Linked DNA regions of Homo sapiens: region 1 is linked to region 2. Evidence: fine-mapped expression QTL. A gene starts in region 2. The other region holds a variant in brackets. All regions are shown on one strand. Distances are from middle to middle.

Region 1 (2,919 bases), 98 kb before region 2:
CTGCGGGAGAGGAGAGCAAGATGACACGAGGTGTTGGGGCAGGAGGCGTCATGCAGGGCCTTGAGGCCGTGTCGATGGTCTGGGGCTTCGTCTTCAAGATAGGAATCCGGCCAGGCACGGTGGCTCACGCCTGTAATCCCAGCACTTTGGGAGGCCGAGGTGGGTGGATCACCTGAGGTCAGGAGTTCAAGACCAGCCTGGCCAACATGGTGAAACCCCGTCTCTACTAAAAATACAAAAATTAGCTGGGCATGGTGGTGCACGCCTGTAATCCCAGCTACTCAGGAGACTGAGGCAGGAGAATCACTTGAACCTGGGAGGTGGAGTTTGTGGTGAGCCAAAACTTTCCCACTGCACTCCAGCCAGTATATATATATATATATATATACACACGTACACGTGTACACATATACACACATATGCACACGTGTACATACACACACATACACATGCACATACATGCACATATGTACATGCGTACATACACACATGTACATATATACACACATGTACATATGTACACCCATACACACATGTACATATGTACACCCATACACACATGTACATATGTACACCCATATACATATGTACATATGTACACCCATACACATATGTACATATGTACACCCATACACATGTACATATGTACACCCATACACATGTACATATGTACATCCACATATGTACATATGTATATCCATACACATATGTACATATATACACACATATGTACATATGTACATATATATTTGTGTATATCTATGTATATATATAAGAATCCCTCGAAAGGGGGTTCAGGCTGAAGACGAAAGGATTCACCAACTCTATAGAGAACAGCCAGGAGGTCATTATAGGGTGAGAAAGGGTGGCTGCTTAGGTTAGGATGGTGGCTGTGAGGTGGGAGAGGAGGGAAGGATTTAAGAGATATTAGGGAGGTAGAATAGACAGTGAAGGAGAGGGAGGTCTTAAGGATGACTTGAACAACTAGGTGGATGATAAGATGGGAACTCTGGTGAGAAACAAGTTTGGAAGGAAAGATCATGGGTTCAGCTTAGGGCAGGCTGAGTTTGGGGTGCCTGTGAGCCTCCATGTCGAGACATCAAGTCCATAGCTAGGAATGTCTGGCAAGTCAGAGGACAAGCATAGGTCAGAGATGTAAAATGAGGAGAGGTGAAAAGTAACAGTGAAATCACCTTTAACAACATCTGAAACATTTTACTGGATTTTTTTCTGTTTTTGAGACAGGGTCTTTCTTGCTCTCTTCCCTAGGCTGGAGTGCAATGGTGTGATCATGATTCACTGCAGTCTTGACCTCCCGGGCTCAAGCGATCCTCCCACTTCAGCCTCCTGAATAGCTGGTACCACAGGCACACCCCACCATGCCAGGCTAATGTTTTTTTTTTTTTTTTTTTTTTTGGTAGAGAAGGGTCTCCATAGGTCAGCCAGGCTGGTCTTTATCTCCTGAGCTCAGTGGATCTTCCTGCCTTGGCCTCCCAAAGTGCTGAGATTAGAGTGTGAGTCACTGTGCCTTGGATTGTCAGTGACCTGTCTTTCCTCCTAGTTCAGTGATTCTCAACTTTGTTCCACCAGTTTCTAGACCACATGTGCACTGCTCTCTCCGGTAACTTCCCTGATTGTCCGCAGTGAT[T/C]CTCCCTCATCTACAGGCTGTTGAGGATAGAAATGTGTTGCTTATCTTTGCATCCCCAGCATCCAGGACCCATTTTGGAAACCCACTAGGTACTCAGATGACTGATGACTGACCAAGAGTACACATGAATCAATGATTGTGTTGAAATCTACATAAAATAACTCATCAGAGACAGTGATTGACATAATCTTTAATTTTGTAGCACCCATTATTAGAGTTTAAAATAATCTGTACTTATTTAGAAGCAAAACATAAAATCATACAGGTGATAACACGAAGTCAGCTTAAAAAGTACAGCACAAAGATGTATAAACAGTATCACAAAGATTTAGGAGCTCAAGAGCCTCACCTTGGTCAGCTGAGGAACATCCTCCATGAAGCTTCGGGGACCTGCCTCAGGGGAAGATTCAGGGGTCACTGGGCTGTTACACAAAATAGAAGAGCATGGCTCAGTTCAGGATGTCCGGGGGAGCTACCCTCTTGTACATTTGCAAAAGCGCTGATAAGCTCAATCGTTTCATTTCAAGTGGCACTGTGCATTGCTTTGATCTCTTCAACGGTGGAGCTGATTTCTAGGAGGCATCCCCAGCTAAACACAGCCACTAGACCCATGCCTCACAGCCCCCGCAGCCACAGGAAGAAAGAAAACAGGCTCTCCCTCACCTTGGTTCTTCTGGTCTAGGTGGTGAGCACCCTGAGGGGCAGCAGCCACCGGCCCAGGGGTGCCAGCAGGCCCAGAGTGTGGCCCAGCATCTCAGCCACGATCCTCTGTAAACACAGGGGAAGGAAGCAAGACTTGCCCTCATCCATTTACAACCAAGTCCACAGGGTTCAGAAGGTAGAGATCAGAGAAGAAATGGAGGTGAATGTTGCTACTGCCTTGGGCTCATGTAGATAAGCTGTGTTTCAATTCAAAGAGTAGAAAATGATTTTAGCATTATTAGGACTAAAGTGTCATTAAGGATGAAAGACAAGGCCAGATGCGGTGGTTCATGCCTATAATCCCAGCATTTTGGAAGGCCGAGATGGGTGGATCAACTGATGTTGGGAGTTCGAGACAAGCCTGGCCAACATGGTGAAACCCCGTCTCTACTAAAAATTAGCCAGCCTTGGTGGCAAACACCTGTAATCCCAGCTACTCTGGAGGCTGACGCATGAGAATTGCTTGAACCTGACAGGCGGAGGTTGCAGTGAGCCGAGATGTCGCCACTGCACTCCAGCCTGGGTGACAGAGCGAGACTCTGTCTCAAAAAAAAAAAGAAACACAAGCG
Region 2 (2,919 bases):
CCTGGCATCCCGAGTCCAGAACAAAAGCCACGGGGGCTGCGGCATGGGCAGGGGGAAGGCGCGCGGTGGCTGACGCGGGGCAGGGGCCCTGGCGAGCGCGGGAGGGGCGGTCAGCAGCCGCTCGCGGGGCTGGACTGGGAGCCCCGTGCGACTCCGGGTCTGGCGCCTGGGTCGGGGGTGGTTCCCGGGCCTCCCTCGGGGGTCGCCGAGGCCCGGCCTCGATAGCCCTGCGGCTGCTGCGAGCGCCTCCCGAGCTCCCGCCCCGCGGTGCTCGCTCCAGGAGCGGGCGCGGCGCTGTGTCCCTTTACCTGCGCGCAGAGGGTCGTCCGGTGAAGCCATGGCGGCGGGTTAGGGGCAAACGAGCGTCCGAGCGGGGCTGGCAGGCCTCCGGGGCGCGGGAGGACCGTGGGACCACGGGGATGAAAAGTCCTGCGGTTCCGACGCGCCTGGAGCAAACCGTGGCTCTGCGCGCCCCTGCCCTCCTCCGCCTTCCCCTCCCTTCTTCTTCTCCTCCTTCGCTTCTTCCACGAGCTCACTTCCTGCTTTGGCAATTAGCAAAGCCCCTTCGCTGCGCGTCCCTCGGTACCTCCCTCCAGAGGCGCGGGGCGGGAGCCGGGGTGCCGCGACCCGGGGCTGGGACGCAAGGCGGGGCCCCGAGTGTCCCGGGCGTCCCCAGCGCCCAGAGCGCGCGTCCTGCCCGGTACCCACGTCCCCCTGGGCGGGTCCTAGCGGGGGGCTGACACGACTGCCGCCCGGGACAGACTGCGAGCGAAGGACTGGCCTTAAGAAACGGCTGCAGTCGCGGGTCGCTTTCCTGGCTCCCTACTCACGCCCTCAGCTGAGACACCAGAACTCCCCTTACACAGGCCTGGGCTGAGATGCCCGCCGGCGATCTGATATTTAGACAAATTTCCTGATCTTTAAGCAGGCTCTGCCGCTGCATGATGGCACACGCTGGTACTTTCTATTTTGATTTTTCTTTGGCATTAGTTACTACATGACCTCCAGGGTGAGTGCTGCAGAAAAGGAGTGAACAGAAGTCGCCCAATACACACTCACAGCTTCTCTAGAAAAAACAGCTTCGGGTTCTCTCAGAAAAGATGGCTTCAAATATTTAAAATATTACGCTTAAGTGGGGTTTTATACCCATTACTTAAGTGAGAACACGTTGGAATTGGTTATGAAGAATATATTTAAGATTGCTACATTTTAACTAAAGCTATCATCCATCATAAGCCTATTATAGGAAGGCGACAGGCATTTTAAATTAAATAGGAATCTTTGAAGAGCTCTAAATAATCTTTCTCTGCCTTCACACATAAGAACAGAAAGATAAAAGTCGGGTCGAAAAAGATAATAATAGTATTTAGTGTATAATATATCCAAGAATTATCGTAAATAAGCAACCTCTGGCTAAAAACTCAGCTCTGAGAAATCCAGGAAGACAGCAAATGCCTACATACCCTCTTGGTGACCAGGAGCTTTAGTGCCTCTCCCCATCTGTTTAGTCGTCCTGAGGCCCATGGCGATGTTGAGTTTGGCTTCTTAATTCTCTGGAGTTTGCCATGGAAGAAGCAACAGATTGCGAGAAGATGCTCGCTGGTTGTCTGGCCAGAGTCAAACCTTCTAGATGAAAGCTCTCTGGGGAATTTGTAGGTGGGAGGATAAACTTCCTCTTGGTCTGCCTTCGGATAGGAAGGGAAATTTTTTTTAAGGGTATTTTATCTTAGAATCAATTTGGAGGTTTGGTTTGTGGTTCTTTCTGTACTTCTCATGGAGATGGAATTATTCTGACGTTGGCCGTCAGGAAACACTAGTTGAGTGAGCTTGTTAGCAGCCCAACCTCAAGCATTGCTATAAAGCTGGTTTGCTTTTTGAAACTCTGAAATGTAATTCATGTTTTTATCATTCCCATTCTGCATTATATCAAATAGAAGATGGTGGTATATTTTAAGGGTTTTTTTTTTTAAGGAAGATTGACTAGTTACGTAGTTATTACTCCCTTTCATTTTCATTTCCTCGTGCCTCCTTTCCTATGAATTGCAACGATCCCCATCATTACCTTTATTTTTCCCATGTGCTTTGCGAACTATAAAGTATGACGCAAATGGGTGCTATTGTTGTTTTGCACTTTACAAAAAAAGTAATTTAAAAATGATTCGCATTCACCAGAGTTCCCATACAATCAATTTGCTGTCACAATGTCCTTCAACTTTTATTTCTTTTGCTGTCCAAGAGTGTTTTAAACCACTATTGAAAATAGACATTTTTGGGCTGGGTGCAGTGGCTCACACCTGTAACCCCAGCACTTTGGGAGCCCAAGGCAGGTGGATTATTTGAGGTCAGGAGTTCGAGGCCAGCCTGGCCAATGTGATGAAACCCCACCGCTACTAAAAATACAAAAAACTTAGCTGGATTGGTGGCACATGCCTGTACTCCCAGCCACTCAGGAAGCTGAGGCAAAAGAATCGCTTGAACCTGGGAGGTGGAGGTTGCAGTAAGCTGAGATTGCACCACGGCACTCCAGCCTGGGCGACAGAGTGAGACTCTGTCTCAAAAAAAAAAAAAAAAAAAAAAGAAAGAAAGAAAGAAAAGAAAATGGACATTTTTAACATTTCCCGATAGTACCCAAACACTCAATCTCAGAGTCATGTGAAAAATTTCATATTTCCATAACTTCACTGCTCTTTGAGTGACCTCCAATTTTCCTTTTCCAATAAATGGAGATAGTGCATTTGGTAATCATGGAGTCAAATATGCTGGATTTCGCTGATGGACCTGTCACTCTAAGGTTGTGTTACATTAAGTAAGAAACCAAAACTGAGTCTGCAAGTGTCTGCAGGATTGTGAGAATTCACTGAAATAATGTTTATGTGAAAATACTGGCTGGGCATGGTGGCTCACACATGCAATTTCAGC

The links. PIP is the estimated chance that this variant, and not a neighbour inherited with it, causes the effect. A credible set is the group of variants that fine-mapping cannot tell apart.
Region 1: its variant is the best candidate, but not a certain one, in a credible set for the expression of EDARADD in whole blood (TOPMed, PIP 0.51).

What each region holds. Positions count from the first base shown.
Region 1 is chr1:236,491,234-236,494,152 of GRCh38, reverse strand. No RefSeq gene overlaps it. Among named protein-coding and RNA genes, the nearest start is that of LGALS8, 31 kb to the left of the region's middle. The variant T/C (reference allele first, on the strand shown) is at 1,649.
Region 2 is chr1:236,393,050-236,395,968 of GRCh38, reverse strand. It overlaps EDARADD (EDAR associated via death domain), which reads right to left and starts at 1,683. Exons shown (of 6, transcript NM_145861.4): 1 at 1,464-1,683. The coding sequence starts at 1,524. RefSeq lists a silencer at 402-811 and an enhancer at 1,012-1,061.